4 linked regions of the Homo sapiens genome follow. The protein of the gene in region 1 purifies or fractionates together with the protein of each later gene. This does not show direct contact. Each region holds a gene or a part of one and is shown in the gene's direction. Other genes may lie near its edges.

Region 1 (4,186 bases):
GCCTTTTAAATGCCCTCTGTTATTACCTTTTCTATGCACAGGAGTCCCTTCTCTTATATTGGAGAGTCATGTTTGAAGGTAGCTCCTGGAAAACCCCAAGAGTTGATGTAAAATAAACAAAATGCTAGTGAAGTTTAACAATGCTCAGGAAACATTGGTTCTTATAGGCAGTAGGCATAATTTTGTATAGACTTTAGCAAGCCATCTGTTGTGATTTTGTCAGAATTATTGTATGTAATATGGAGAACTGTGGGTTAGACACAGCGAAGACTAACTAGATGAGCAACTTCTTTCTGAAAATAAACTCTGTCCTCTGCCTTGCTGAGATTTTTTTTCTATTGGAGGTATTGCTCTGGGTTAGAGATTTACAGACTTTTCTTTAGCAATGTGAAAAAACTTGTCTTACAGGGAACCTCAAAAAATAAAGTATGTTTTATGGAATAATCTAATTTGGCTAAGGTGTGATTAGTTGGAGCAGGGGTAGGACAGGGAATCCCAGCCATTTGGTCTCTTTCTCCCCTACCTGGACAGTTTGTGGTCCTCTGAGAAGCTCAGTTTGGAAAGTTCTGCAGTTCATGACACACACGGGAGTTTCCAACCTGAGGACTTCTGATAACTAATAATTTTATAAACCAATGATATTTATAATTTCTGACTTTCTTATCTAAGAATATATTAATGAGTATTGTATACTTGTGTTTTTTTCCCTTTGTTTTTAACAGGAAAAACCTTTGCCCGTGATATGTTCTACATCTGCAGCTTCTCTAAAATCGCTGACCAGAGACCGTGGCATGTTATATAAAGATGTCGCTTCTGGGCCATGTAAAATAGTGATGTCTACAGGTAAATTCATATTTTAAAAATAGTATAGAATTACTAATCTTTTATCCTGTATTATTTTCAGTGTCTTCGAAGTCCTGGAAATAAAATAATAAGGGAAAAAGATGGTAATATTAAACATTTATCTTTGCATTTTTCATATTAAAGTATTTTGAAATTCTGATTGTTCCATTTTACATTAAGGAAAAAGTCTTTAAATACATGAGTCACTTGAAAATTCAGATACTCTTAAAGTATTTTATCCATTTAAGTAAGATTTATGCAATTTACATTGTCCAATCTATTCTTGTTTTCCCTTTATCTCATTTCAAAATTTGTCTTTTTGTATGGTATGTATTTTCAAAGCTGCCTCAAACCTTTTCTTAATGCCTTTTAAAAATTATCTCCCTTACACTCTCCTATTCCCTGGACTTTTTTTTCCTTTTAATTTTTCTTTCCTGACTAAAAGTAAATTTAGTTTTTTAAAAATAGAAGTCACTTTAAAAATGATTGTTGTAACATATCTCATTTTTTTCAGTTTATTATTTCTGATTTTTAATTAGCAGGAAAGACTAGCTAAATGGATATAACACAAAGGAGATAAAACATTGAAATCCTTGTTTAGCTTCGCTTGTGTTCAGTAGAATTTGTCCATGTCATCAGCACCGTGGGTTGAATTTTTAATAGCTATTTCATTTCTGAAGGATAACAGTCCTTCCTCTGGCTGTTGCCACAAAATTGAATTGTATATTTCAACAGAGCAAAACTGAGATTGATCAGTTTTCTTATACTAAATATAGACTATGTGTGTGTGAAAGTTTTGCAATATTAATTAATGGATTAAAAATAACATGCTTCTTAGGGGGACAATTTATTTTATTTTTGGTAGTGATGTGCCCTCATGTTTTGTTTCTTTGTTGTTTTTTTTTTTTTTGAGACAGTCTCACTTCATCACCCAGGCTGGAGTGCAGTGGCGTGATCTTGGCTAAATGCAACCTCTGCCTCCCGGGTTCAAGTGATTCTTCTGCCTCGCCTCCCAAGTATCTGGGACTACAGGCATGTGCCACCACACCCAGATAATTTTTGTATTTTTAGTAGAGATGGGGTTTCACTATGTTGGCCAGGCTGGTCTCAAACTCTTGACCTGAGTTGATCCGCCCACCTTGGCCTCCCAAAGTGCTGGGATTACAGGCGTGACCAACTGCGCCCAGCTTCCCTCATGTTTTTATAGTGTATATTGATTTGCATTTGTTGATTCTCAGTAAAGAAAATTATTGGAAGTTGGCATTTATGTGATTATAGATGAATTGCTTCTATATCATATGCTTTTATTATACTAAGGAAAGAGTTTATTTTAAAATTTTCTTCCATGAATCTTGGTATATATAGAAGGAACATTTTTATTTTCCTAAAATTAATAAAATATTAATATATATCAATATAACTTGTTATATATATCTTAAATTGTTTGGTTACTTTAGAAAATATAATTGAGGTGCAGTATTGGTGATTTAAAATAAATTCAGTCCAAAAAAGAGCATAGCAAGATGACCCGTTTTGAAAGGAAATTCTTGTACTGTGTATACAATTAAAAGATGAAAATATTCATCTGTCTTTGTGCCATTTTATATAATGTGGGAATGTATGAAGAATTGTTTTTGTGATGTGCCTAAAATGTCTGTAGATTTTATATCATCAGTTTGGACAAGATTCTAAAAAATTGAATAAACATTTTGATTGTTTCTTTGTGGGTTCAGTGTCTTTGCATCAATGTAAAAATATATTTACATATTTTTAGGTAGCAGAAATGATCATTGATATTAACTATATTTAGGTTTTCTGTGAGTGAAGTGGATAGTGGGATATAGTAATTGATTATGTAGTGTTTTCACAAAATTTCTTTTAATCAGTCTCATTGTTATGTATGCATACGCATTTTTTCTCAAGTCTGTGTCTATGTAAACAAACATGGAAACTTTGGCCCTCATCTGGATCCCAAGAGAATCCAGCAGCTGCCTGACCACTTCGGCCCGGGCCCGGTGAATGTGGTGCTTCGCCGGATTGTGCAGGCCTGTGTGGATTGTGCCCTTGAAACTAAAACTGTTTTTGGATACCTGAAGCCAGATAATCGTGGAGGAGAAGTGATAACTGGTATACTTATCTAATACATTGTCTAATTCAGTCCCTTCCCCCTTCCCTTCCCCCTTCCCTTCCCCCTTCCCTTCCCCCTTCCCTTTCCTCTCCCCTTCCCCTTTCCCCTCCCCTTCCCCCTCCCCCGCCCTTTCTTCTTTCTTCCTTCATCTTTTTAGAACAGGGTCTCACTCTGTCACCCAGGCTGGAGTGCAGTGGTGTGATCTTGGCTCACTGCAGCCTCCACCTCCCAGGTTCAAGCGATTCTCCCACCTTAGCCTCCTGAGTAGCTGGGATTATAGGCATGCGCCATCATGCCTGGCTAACTTTTGTATTTTTAGTAGAGACAGGGTTTTGCCATGTTGCCCAGGCTAGTCGTGAACTCCTGGCCTCATGTGATCTGCCCACCTTGGCCTCGCAGAATGCTGGGATTACAGGTGTGAGCCACCGCACCTAGCCTGTAATATTTATTATATTAGTATAATAGAACATTTATAGGAGTTATATGTTTATAGACTTTAAGCCCTGGTTTGAAAAGTTTACTTTTAAAATGGACAAATGATGTCAGAATAATGTAAATTGGGACAAAAGTCACAGATTCTTCGTTTTACATGCTGTGTTAAGCTCACTATAGGCAGAGTACCTTGGCTGATAATATATTTTATCTATAAGAAGCTCTAAATAAATATGTGACTCAAGAAGTCACTAAGCAATAAGATAGTGTTGGTGGCTATGATCAGACACCACAACATTCATACCCATGGAATATTTGGAATAGAAGGAAGTGTTACATAGATCAGTGAGTTTCTGTTGTTGTTGTTGACTTAAGAGTATTTTCAAATGAGGATGTTTTTACCAATACAGGCTATTGTGTTTGAGAGGAGCTTTTATAATATAAGATCATTCCTTTATGAATTACAAAGAACACAAATTAGACTTATAATACCTTTCCTAAGGTGATAGTTTTTTTTTTAATTAGTGTTGTATTTCTCATCTCTCTGAGGTTACTGACATCCTTTTTTTTCCCCCAATAGCCTCCTTTGATGGGGAAACTCATTCCATCCAGCTCCCTCCAGTGAACAGTGCATCATTTGCTCTTCGCTTTCTTGAGAACTTCTGCCACAGTCTGCAGTGTGATAACCTTTTGAGTAGCCAGCCTTTTAGTTCTTCCAGGGGTCATACTCACAGCTCTGCAGAGCATGATAAAAATCAGTCAGGTGAGAGAAAATGTAAACTC
Region 2 (4,186 bases), on another chromosome or scaffold:
TGTCATCAGAGAGGTAGAATGAGAGATAAGTATTAAGAACAGCTACCTCACCCCAGAAAGGGGTTTTGCAGTTTTTAAAAGCTTGACCTCCATTCGAGCTCTGATTTCATCTTCATAACCCCTGGAGCAGGCAGGGAAGATATTGTGTCTATCTTGCAGATGATGAAACCAAGATTCAAAGAGATTAAGAGTCACTTAATTAAACTGGGCATGGTGGCTCAAGCCTGTAATCCCAGCACTTTGGAAGGCTGAGGCGGGCAGATCACATGAGGTCAGGAGTTCGAGACCAGCCTGGCCAACATGGTGAAACCCTGTCTCTACTAAAAATACAAAAATTAGCCCGGCGTGGTGGCAGGTGCCTGTAATCCCAGCTACCCAGAGGCTGAGGCAGGAGAATCACTTGAACCCGGGAGGCGGAGGCCACAGTGAGCCAAGATCATGACATTGCACTCCAGCCTGGGCCACAGAACAAGATTCCATCTCAAAAAAAAAAAAAAAAAAAAGAGTCACCTAGTTAAGAAGTTAGCTCACCCCCAGTGTTTGACTGCCTGCCCTCTCTACCACACAGTGGCAGAACACAGAGGAGCTTTGTTAGGAAACGGAAATACACTGAATGGAGAGAGTGTGGTAAGTTTGTCTTCTCAGTGGAAGCACCAGCCTCACAGTTAAGTCCATATAGGAGGCCAAGGCAGGCGGATCACCTGAGGTCAAGAGTTCAAGACCAGCCTGGCCAACATAGCTTTCTACTTTCTAGTTTTCTACTAAAACTAGAAAATTAGCTGGGCGTGGTGACGGGCGCCTGTAGTCCCAGCTACTCAGGAGGCTGAGGCAGGAGAATTGCTTGAGCTCAGGAGGTGGAGGTTGGAGTGAGCCGAGACTGTGCCACTGCACTCCAGCCTGGATGACAGAGCGAGACTCCATTTCAAAAAGTAAAAAAAAATTAAAAATTTAAAATTTAATTTTTTTTTTGACGGAATCTCGCTCTGTCGCCCAGGCTGGAGTGCGGTGGCACGGTCTCGGCTCACTGCAAGCTCCGCCTCCCGGGTTCACGCCATTCTCCTGCCTCAGCCCCCCGAGTAGGTGGGACTACAGGCGCCCGCCACCATGCCTGGCTAATTTTTTGTATTTTTTAGTAGAGACGGGGTTTCACCATGTTAGCCAGGATGGTCTCGATCTCCTGACCTCATGATCCACCCGCCTTGGCCTCCCAAAGTGCTGGGATTACAGGCGTGAGCCACCGCGCCCAGCCAAAATAAAATTTTTTACTCCTTAGAAGGACTGGTGCGGTGGCTCTCGGCTGTAATCCCAGCACTTTAGAAGGCAGAAGCGGGCAGATTGCTTGATCTGGGTGGTTCAAGGGCATCATGACAAAACCCTGTCTCTACCCCCTCCAAAATACAAAAAAATAGCCAGGTAGTACACGCCTGTAGTCCCAGCTACTTGGGAGGCTTAGGTGAGAGAATCACTTGCACTCAGGAAGTTGAGGATGCAGTGAGCCATGATCACGCCACTGCACTCCAGCCTGGCCAACAAAGCGAGACTCTGTTTCAAAAAATAAATAAATAAATAAATACAGGAAATGAATATCACTGAATCATTTCATAGTAGGTGCATTTCTTGTATATCTCCTAGGTGTCTAGCATTATGCTAATTATTATAGAAGCTACATGAGGTCTATAAGATATGGCCCCTGGCCTCTAGGAGTTTACAGGGTAGTTGGGAAAATCGAGATATCTGGAACATAATATAAAACAATATCCAATTAAGTGCTTTTTTTATAATCACAGGTTTTGGACCAGAAAAGATGTTAGAGATTGCTGGTCAAACCTCCTTCCTTTCAGGTGAATAATTACTGTGAGGCAGTTCAGCTCCTCTGGTGTTAAAGCCCCAATTATCACTTATCTGCCCTCTCTTGCAGGAGTGAGCCTTAGGGCACAATTTCCAATTCAGTGTTAGAAGGTAGAGGAAGAGTTGGAAAACTCTTTGTAGTTTAGGAAGCACTTTCACGTCAATTATATCATTTATGCCCCTACAAACAGCCCCAAGAGGCAGGTATTATTATAACCGCTTTATAGGTGAGAAACTTGAGTCAATTCCTTCTCCAAAATTACAGTTAGGTCCCCATGCAGGAATAGGGAAAATGGATAGATGCTAGTAATTTAGGGACAATCTCCACTACCTGTCACTTACTTGCTAGTTTTATTATTTTTTATTTTTGAATGTATCTCTGTTTTTTAAAATCACCTGTTAAAGTGGAAGTATTCTCAGAGGAGCTGAAGTTTATCAGCTTTCCTTGGACTTCTCAGAGAGCTTCTTAGTGGAAGGCCAACTGAAGAACCCCATTAGAAGGAGAGAAAGAAGGAAGAAAAAGATCATCACATAGAAAAGGGAAGAGTGTCAAAGACAAATGATAACTGCATGACCAAGGAATTTGATATCACAGTGAAAGAGGAATATTGGATGAGGGCAGAAAGAAAAGAAAGGCAAACAAGGGATGGCAATTGAGAAAACTTGAATGTTTTTGAAGGCAGGAGAAATGAGTTTTCCCATTCTGAAGATAACAGAGACTGAACATGTCATTGTAGCACCATGTACTAAAGTACACTTGGAAGAAAACCCTCTTCCAAGATTCTCCGTATTAGCTGATGTCATTGCTATACTCATCTTTCCTATTTGGGGAGACAAGTTGTCAGGATGGAAAACAACTGTGGTCTTTTCATTCAGAAAACATTGATTAGGTAGACAGAACTGTGTGAATTGCTATGGGGGTAGCAGGGACATAAAATAGTGCCTGCCCTTTGGGAAATTAATAAAATAGAATGGAGCTAAGAGGGACACATCCAGAAAGACAGAGCCATACACAGGCCCATTCATGAAAAGCCACAATCTGTATAACGAAGAACCAAATAAATGAATGGCCCAACAGCAAAAGCCTCCGGATCATTATTGCTGATCCATTATCTTATATAATATGTTAATAAGCATTTTGATGAGAATTGTGAGCATATTTATGAGAAGGAAAGAAATGTTATTTAATTGTTTTTAGAGGTAAGGGCTACTATACATGCAATGTGCATGCACACAACAAACACACACACACACACACACACACACACACACACACACACTCCCCTTAGTCATAAACCTAATTGCTGAATACTATTCCTGGCCAACACACAGAACATGATTTTTGTCAGTCAGGACACCGCACAAACACTTCATCTGCATACCATCCTGGGCACACCCTGGAACTTAGCATGTCATGGCTCTCACCCCATCCACAAATTTGCATTCCCCTCTCTGACCACAGCCTCCTTATTAGTCGCCTCTCCCACTGTCCCACACCCAAAGAACCTGTCATTCAGCCACACCAGAATCCTTCAGGCACCTACCTTCCCAACTTCATGAGAACATGCCCAGGCCCACTGAGTCTCTCATCCAGCCTGGACCCCATGACAGGAGGGTAGCTTCAAATACTCCTCCACTCATGATGATTTCCTTGACCCTGGGAGCTCCTGACATTCTAATTCTCAATTAAAGGTCACACCCACTGCCACCACTTTCTATGCAGCTACTACTGTTCCAGAATCAAAGAACTTTGCCAAAGCGAGGTGCAGAACCACAGAAAACTCACCATTACAAACCTGTGGATTAATGCTTAACAACCCGGACAGGACCCAGGGCTGCCAGAACATTCTTGCAGTCATATTTGTTGGTCTTTTTCTAGAAACCCCACAAATGTAAATCTCTCTTCAGTTGTTCATTGCCTCCCACCCCCATGGTCCCTCCAGCAGGATGTCTCAGTTCCTACTCTTCTTAGGCCAGCTGTCCCCAACCTTTTTGGTACCTTTGTGGAAGGCAATTTTTCCACAGATGGGGTGGAGGGGATAGTTTTGGGATGAAGCTGTTCCACCTCAGATCATCAGGCATTATTTTCTCATAAGGAGCACGCAACCTTGATCCTTTGCATGCAGTTCACAATAGGGTTCCCACTCCTATGAGAATCTAATGCTGCCGCTAATCTGACAGGAGGCGGAGCTCAGGCCATAATGCTCACTGGCCCACTGCTCCCCTCCTGCTGTGCAGCCCGATTCCTAACAGGCCATGGATGGGTACTGGTCTGCAGCCCAGGGGTTGGGAACACCTGTCTTAGGAGATTGCAGATCTCTGGTAAGAAAATGCCCCA
Region 3 (4,186 bases), on another chromosome or scaffold:
ATTTTTATATCATTAATGTTGTATTTTGAACCCTTTCCCTCATTCTTTAGGGTTCTTTGAAAATGATTGTCAATGGCTGTAGTTTATGAGTGTACTATACTCTAACACATATGGTGCTCTTGTCTATGTGGGTTTTCTCATTCTTTTGCTATTTTAATGTGGCTAATGAACATCTTAATACATAAATTCTTCTGATTATTTCTTTCTTTCTTTTTTTTTTTTTTTTTGAAACGGAGTCTCACTGTGTTGACCAAGCTCGAGTGCAGTGGTGTGATCTTGGCTCACTGTAGCCTCTGCCTCCCAGATTCAAGCAGTTCTTCCTGCCTCAGCCTCCTGAGTAGCTGGGATTACAGATGCCCACCACCATGCCTGGCTGGTTTTTGTATTTTTTAATAGAGATGGGGTTTCAACATGTTGGCCAGGCTGGTCTTGAATTCCTGACCTCAGGTCATCCGCCTGCCTCAGCCTCCCAAATTGTTGTGATTACCGGCGTGAGCCACTGCACCCGGCCTGAGTCTTTTTTCTTTTCTTTTTTTTTTTTTGTGGAGACAGAGTCTCTCTCTGTGGCCCGAGCTGGAGTGCGGTGGCTCAATCTCAGCTCACTGCAACTTCCGCCTCCTGGGTTCAAGCAATTCTCCTGCCTCAACCTCCCGAGTAGCTGGGACTACAGGCGCCCGCCACTAAGCCTGGGTAATTTATTTTTTTAATTTTTATTTTAGTAGTGACAGGGTTTGGCCATGTTGCCCAGGCTAGTCTTGAACTCCTGAGCTCAGGCAATCTGCCCGCCTCAGCCTCCCAAAGCACTAGGATTACAGGCATGAGACCACGCCTGGCCCTGGCCTGATTATTTCTTTAGGACAGATTGTCAGAGGTGAAATTTCTAGGACAAGGTTTATGAACATTTTAAGAATCTTGTTTCATATTTCCAGATTACTTTCTTTTTCTTCTTTTTTTTCATTTTTCTTTTTTTTTGTTTTTCGAGACAGGCTCTCACTCTGTTGCCCAGACTGGAGTGCAGTGGTGTAATCACGGCTCACCACAGCCTCAACTTCCTGGGCATAGGTGATCCTCCCACCTCAGCCTCCTGAGAAGCTGGGACTACAGGCACGTGCTACCACACCCGGCTAATATCTTATATTTTTTTTTTATAGAAAAAGATAAAACCATGTTGCCCATTCTGGTCTCAAACTCCTGGGTTCAAGTGATCCTCCCACCTTGGCCTCCTAAAGTGTTGGGATTATAGGCTTGAGCCACCGTGCCTGGCCTCCAGATTACTTTCTGGAAAGAGTGTACTAATTTCTACTCTCACCAAAACTTTGAGAGTACGTGTCTCTATATGTTTTCACTAGGATGAAAGGATTCAGGATTATTCTATGTTTTTTATCATAGAAGTTTAATAGGTAAAAATTCCATTGCTATATTTTTTGGAAGTAATGTCATGGTGACTATAAAATCCTCTCTTGATGCGACAGCTTGAGATAGAGCCACACTGGTAGTGCTTCTGATTTATTGTCTCTGTGTGTATGTGTCTATCTGTCTGTGTGTCTCTCTCTCTGTCTCTCTTGATTCTTGTGGCTATACTCTAATTTCCCTTTGACTAATTCTTCCTGTCCAGGAATGACACTGTGCGCTTTGCTTTGGATGTCCTGGCTATTCTTACTGTGGTGCCAAAAATCCAGCTCCAGTTGGCAGAATCAGTGGACGTGTTGGATGAGGCTGGATCTACAGTCTCTACTGTAGGTAGGTTGTACTTTGCCATTTTTGTTGTTTCTTGGTCTGGATTTGTTTTTTCTTTGCCACTCTGGTCTTGGTTACTTACCTGACCTAATTTTGGATTTTAGAACAGAAGTAGTAGAGGGGGGCTCCTTGTCTGTCCTTTATAAGGAGTACCATTCAGCAGATCAGGAACTAATTTAAAAAAAAAAACCAAAAAACAAAAATACAAATGTAGGACCAGATAGTTTGATGTAAGGGAGTCATGCTAGTAAACTCAGGTTTTCTGAGTGGTACTGGCATTTCTGCTATAATGGTATATTATAGCTTTCCTGAAAAGCTCACACTCTGAAGAGTCTTGCACTAAAAATAAAGTTCATGGGAAAAATGGGTTGAGGCAGATAGTAAAAAACTTAAGCATCACAGCTTTCCAGGAGTTAAAGGGAAAAAAAAACAACAAAGTAAGCAGTTTTGTAACCTGAGTCAGTAATTGGCAGGTAGCTCAAAATGGGTAGAAACCGTCATACATATATAAAAAAAGGAAAATATACTTTGATAATATACTTTATTAAGAGCAAGGCTGATCAGGGCACTGCTGGGGTGAGCATGGGAAGTCGTGTGATGGGACAAGATGCAGGATAGGACTAAGACACAGGCACTTGGTTTTTAATTTTCTTAAAATAGAGTGGAAAGGGTTCTGCTTCCACAGTAGCAGCCCAACCGAGGGCTTTCTCCGTTCCTAAGGTTTTAGTGTATTAAAATTAATAAACCAGAAAAGGTCGAGCACAGTGGCTCACACCTGTAATCCCAAAACTTTGGGAGGCCGAGGCGGGTGGATCACCTGAGGTCAGGAGTTCCAGACCAGACTGGCCAACATGGTGAAACCCCACCTCTACTAAAAATACAAAAATTAGCTGGGCGTGGTGACAGGCGCCTGTAATCCCAGCTCTTTGCAGGGATGAGGCAGGAGAATCACTTGAACTCGGGAGGCGGAGGTTGCAGTGAGCCAAGATCACGCCACTGCACTCCAGCTTGGGCGACAGAGCGAGACTCTGCCTCAAAAAAATAATAAAACCAGAAAAAATTGCACATGAACCTTGATTACTTTTCCATAATTATGACATGATTTCCCTATTTAATAACTGCATATGAGATACCATAAAAATACATTGTAGTAGAACTGTCTGCACTTTATACAAACCCTTGCAGTTTTTACAAAAGTAATATAGTTTTTTAAAGTAAAAGTGAGTAGAACACCAAATTTTGACTCTGGAACAACTATTGAAGTTGGCCATTAGTTTTATGGTGAATAATACATAATTTTTTTTCCCATTAGGTATCAGCATTATTTTGGGAGTGGCTGAGGGTGAGTTCTTCATCCATGATGCTGAAATTCAGAAGTCAGCACTTCAGATTATCATCAATTGTGTGTGTGGCCCAGATAACCGAATATCCAGTATTGGTAAATTTATCTCTGGTACTCCTCGGAGAAAGCTGCCTCAGAACCCTAAAAGCAGTGAGCACACCCTGGCCAAGATGTGGAATGTGGTTCAGTCCAACAACGGCATCAAGGTGCTCCTGTCCTTACTGTCCATTAAGATGCCCATCACAGATGCAGACCAAATCCGGGCCCTGGCCTGCAAAGCCCTAGTGGGCCTGTCTCGCAGTAGCACTGTCCGGCAGATCATCAGTAAACTGCCCCTTTTCAGCAGCTGCCAGATCCAGCAGCTGATGAAGGAGCCTGTGCTGCAGGACAAGCGCAGTGACCATGTCAAGTTCTGCAAGTATGCTGCTGAACTCATTGAACGGGTGTCAGGAAAACCACTTCTCATTGGCACTGATGTTTCCCTAGCACGACTGCAGAAAGCAGATGTTGTTGCCCAGTCAAGGATCTCCTTCCCTGAGAAAGAGCTGCTTTTGTTGATACGAAACCATCTTATTTCTAAAGGGCTTGGAGAAACAGCAACCGTGCTGACAAAAGAGGCTGACCTGCCCATGACTGCTGCCTCCCATTCTTCTGCCTTTACCCCAGTCACTGCTGCTGCTTCTCCTGTCTCTCTACCCCGAACCCCTCGTATCGCTAATGGCATTGCAACTCGTCTGGGCAGCCATGCTGCTGTGGGTGCCTCTGCGCCTTCTGCCCCTACTGCTCATCCTCAGCCACGGCCCCCCCAGGGTCCGCTAGCTCTGCCCGGCCCATCTTATGCAGGCAACTCCCCTTTGATTGGTAGAATCAGTTTTATCAGAGAGAGGCCATCACCCTGCAATGGCAGGAAAATCAGAGTGTTGCGGCAGAAGTCGGACCATGGTGCCTACAGCCAAAGCCCAGCCATAAAAAAACAGCTGGACAGACATCTTCCTTCCCCACCTACGCTGGACAGTATAATCACAGAGTATCTTAGAGAACAACATGCTCGCTGCAAGAATCCAGTTGCCACCTGCCCACCTTTCTCCCTCTTTACTCCTCACCAAT
Region 4 (3,424 bases), on another chromosome or scaffold:
CTGGAGAGGGCCACCTCTGCCCAAATTTTCCCAGCTGTTTGGACCTCTGGGTGCTTTCTTTGGGCTGGTGAGAGCTCTAATTTGCCTTGGGCCAGTTTCAGGTTTATAGGCCCCCTCAGTCTTCAGATACATGAGGGCTTCTTTGCTCTTGTGATCGTGTAGTCCCATAGCTGTAAAACCAGAATCACCAGGAGGTTGCACCTAGTCAGGAATATTGGGAATGGCCTAGAACAAGGTGTTTGGCACATAAGTAGACCACTTATCCCTCATTGTGACCTAATTCCAGAGCATCTGGCTGGGTTGTTGGGTTCTAGACTTTGTCCTCACCTCCCAGTGACCCTGACTAGCCACAGGCCATGAGATACCAGGGGGCCGTTCCTTGGATGGAGCCTGTGGTTGATGCAAGGCTTCCTTGTCCCCAAGCAAGTCTTCAGAAGGTTAGAACCCAGTGTTGACTGAGTCTGTGCTTGAAACCAGGCCAGAGCCATGGATTAGGAAGGGCAAAGAGAAGGCACCAGAATGAGTAAAGCAGGCAGGTGGTGAAGCCAACCATAAACTTCTCAGGAGTGACATGTGCTTCCTTCAAAGGCATTTTTGTTAACCATATCCTTCTGAGTTCTATGTTTCCTTCACAGCTGTTCTATCCATTTTGTGGACTGTCCCCCACCCCCACCCCATCATTGTTTTTAAAAAATTAAGGCCTGGCGCAGCAGCTCATGCCTATAATCCCAGCACTTTGGGAGGCTGAGGCGGGCGGATCACTTGAGGCCAGGAGTTTGAGACCAGCCCAGGCAACATAGCAAAACCCCATTCTGCTTTAAAAAAAAAAAAAAAAAAAATTAGCTTGGCGTAGTGGCATGTGCCTATAATCCCAGCTACTGGGGAGGCTGAGGCACAAGAATCATTTGAACCTGGGAGGTAGAGGTTGCTGTGAGCCGAGATTACGCCCCTGCACTCCAGCCTGGGTCACAGAGTGAGACTCCATCTCAGAAAAAAAAAAAATTGAGTCAGGTGCAGTAGCTCCTTCCTGTAGTCCCAGCTACTTGGGAGGCTGAGGCTAGAGGATCACTTGAGCCCAGGAGTTTGAGTCTAGTCTGGGCAACATAGCAAGACCCCATCTCTAAAATTTAAGTAAGTAAAAGTAGATAAATAAAAAGAAAAAAAAACTGTTTATGTGCTCATCATAAAGTAGAAGAGTGGTTTGCTTTTTTTTTTTTTTTTGGATTAATGAGGAAATCATTCTGTGGCTCTAGTCATAATTTATGCTTAATAACATTGATAGTAGCCCTTTGCGCTATAACTCTACCTAAAGACTCACATCATTTGGCAGAGAGAGAGTCGTTGAAGTCCCAGGAATTCAGGACTGGGCAGGTTAAGACCTCAGACAAGGTAGTAGAGGTAGACTTGTGGACAAGGCTCGGGTCCCAGCCCACCGCACCCCAACTTTAATCAGAGTGGTTCACTATTGATCTATTTTTGTGTGATAGCTGTGTGGCGTGGGCCACAACATTTAATGAGAAGTTACTGTGCACCAAACTGCCGAACACCATTCTAAACTATTCATATATATTAGTCATTTAATTCTTACATAACTTGAGAGGTAGACAGATATCCTTATTTTAGAGATGAGGAAACCAAGAGAACTTAGGTCATTAGCGCAAGGTTGTAGAGTAAGCGGCAAAGCCAAGACACAAAGCTGGGTGGTTTGGTTTCAGAGCCAGTGCTTTTCCCCTCTACTGTACTGCCTCTCAACCAACACAGGGTTGCACAGGCCCATTCTCTGATTTTTTTCCTCTTGTCCTCTGCCTCTCCCTCTAGCTCCCACTTCCTCTCTGCTCTAGTTCATTTTCTTTAGAGCAGCCCGAGTGATCATGAAGTGCAAATCTTGCCATGTCAGTCCCCTGCTTAGAACCCTCCAATGGCTCACTTTCTCTTTAGGCAAAAGTCTTTACCCCATGCCTTCTCCCATCTCATCTCAACCCCCTCATTTGTTGGCTGTCTGCTGTCAGCCACTCTTCTTTCAGGTCCTCAGATGCACTGCACCCTCTCCTGCCTGGGGGTCTTTGCTCCTGCTACTACCTCTGCTTGAACAGCTCCTCACCTTCCTTCCTCCAACCCTACCCTTGTATAGGTGACTTTTGTTCATCCTTCAGAATTCAACTCACATGTCTCTTGCATGGAGAACCCTCACCTACTGTGTTGAGACCCTGTCCAGCCCCCAGGTGGGATCCTCTCTCGACTTCCCATACATTTCTTTCACAGCATTTACATAGTCCATGATAGTTTACTTGTGGGATTATTTGGTTAATCTTTGCCTTTAACACCAGGGTTCCTTGGGTGAAGGAGCTTCTTTATCTTGGTAACAGCATTATTTCAAGCATAACTTGTAATATAGTTATATTACATATATAACATATATATATATAACATAACATATATAACATATATAACAAGCATAACTTGTTATATAGTCTTGTATATAGTAAGACCTCAATAAATATTTGGAGAACAAATGAATGTTGAATGCACACATCAATAGTGAAACTTCTATAGCTGCATTTGGCCTCAGAATCTCCGTCAGCATTGGAATTTACAGCCTTAACAGCCTTTATTGTCTTAAGGGTTGAGAAAAGAGGCCCTAATGCATGGACTGCTGGGCAGATGTGATAGGTGATTGCACAGGCCCCACCCACGCAGATCTGCTCACCCAAGGGGTTTCTGCCTGTGAAACTCTTCTCCCGTGAGAAGGGGAGAGAGCACCCCTTCTTCTCCCGTGAGAAGGGGAGAGAGCACCCCTTCTTCTCCCGTGAGAAGGGGAGAGAGCACCCCTTCTTCTCCCGTGAGAAGGGGAGAGAGCACCCCTTCTTCTCCCGTGAGAAGGGGAGAGAGCACCCCTTCTTCTCCCGTGAGAAGGGGAGAGAGCACCCCTTCTTCTCCCGTGAGAAGGGGAGAGAGCACCCCTTCTTCTCCCGTGAGAAGGGGAGAGAGCACCCCTTCTTCTCCCGTGAGAAGGGGAGAGAGCACCCCTTCTTCTCCCGTGAGAAGGGGAGAGAGCACCCCTTCTTCTCCCGTGAGAAGGGGAGAGAGCACCCCTTCTCAGGTGCCCACTTGCCTGGGACATGGTAAGTCTTACCACAGGGAGAACAGATGGGAATGTGTGCTCCCACAAACGAATTCTTCGGCCTCAGGGCTGGAAGGATTCTCCCACATTGTTTTTTGTTTTTGTTTTTTTTTGAGATGGGTTCTTGCTCTCTTGCCCAGGCTAGAGTGCAGTGGCTTGATCTCTGCTCACTGCAACCTCCACCTCCTGGGCTCAAGCGATCCTCCCACCTCAGCCTCCCGAGTAGCTGGGACCACAGGTGCGTGCCACCATGCCCGGCTAATTTTTTGTGTTTTTGGTAGAGACAGGGTCTTGCCATGTTGG

The links.
Region 2: the proteins of SCML2 (region 1) and CSTA purify together in Homo sapiens (affinity purification with mass spectrometry; one large-scale study listed by BioGRID and IntAct). This does not show direct contact.
Region 3: the proteins of SCML2 (region 1) and DCAF1 purify together in Homo sapiens (affinity purification with mass spectrometry, with the first as the bait; one large-scale study listed by BioGRID). This does not show direct contact.
Region 4: the proteins of SCML2 (region 1) and BAG1 fractionate together in Homo sapiens (co-fractionation; one large-scale study listed by BioGRID). This does not show direct contact.

Annotation. Positions count from the first base shown.
Region 1 is NC_000023.11:18,256,828-18,261,013, reverse strand, and holds part of SCML2 (sex comb on midleg-like protein 2), read left to right. Parts: intron 1-722; coding exon 723-843; intron 844-2,766; coding exon 2,767-2,970; intron 2,971-3,983; coding exon 3,984-4,166; intron 4,167-4,186. UniProt on the Homo sapiens protein: Putative Polycomb group (PcG) protein. PcG proteins act by forming multiprotein complexes, which are required to maintain the transcriptionally repressive state of homeotic genes throughout development.
Region 2 is NC_000003.12:122,328,017-122,332,202, forward strand, and holds part of CSTA (cystatin-A), read left to right. Parts: intron 1-4,186. UniProt on the Homo sapiens protein: This is an intracellular thiol proteinase inhibitor. Has an important role in desmosome-mediated cell-cell adhesion in the lower levels of the epidermis.
Region 3 is NC_000003.12:51,419,861-51,424,046, reverse strand, and holds part of DCAF1 (DDB1- and CUL4-associated factor 1), read left to right. Parts: intron 1-1,615; coding exon 1,616-1,740; intron 1,741-3,049; coding exon 3,050-4,186. UniProt on the Homo sapiens protein: Acts both as a substrate recognition component of E3 ubiquitin-protein ligase complexes and as an atypical serine/threonine-protein kinase, playing key roles in various processes such as cell cycle, telomerase regulation and histone modification.
Region 4 is NC_000009.12:33,251,560-33,254,983, reverse strand, and holds the end of BAG1 (BAG family molecular chaperone regulator 1), read left to right. Parts: 3' UTR 1-2,513; downstream 2,514-3,424. UniProt on the Homo sapiens protein: Co-chaperone for HSP70 and HSC70 chaperone proteins. Acts as a nucleotide-exchange factor (NEF) promoting the release of ADP from the HSP70 and HSC70 proteins thereby triggering client/substrate protein release.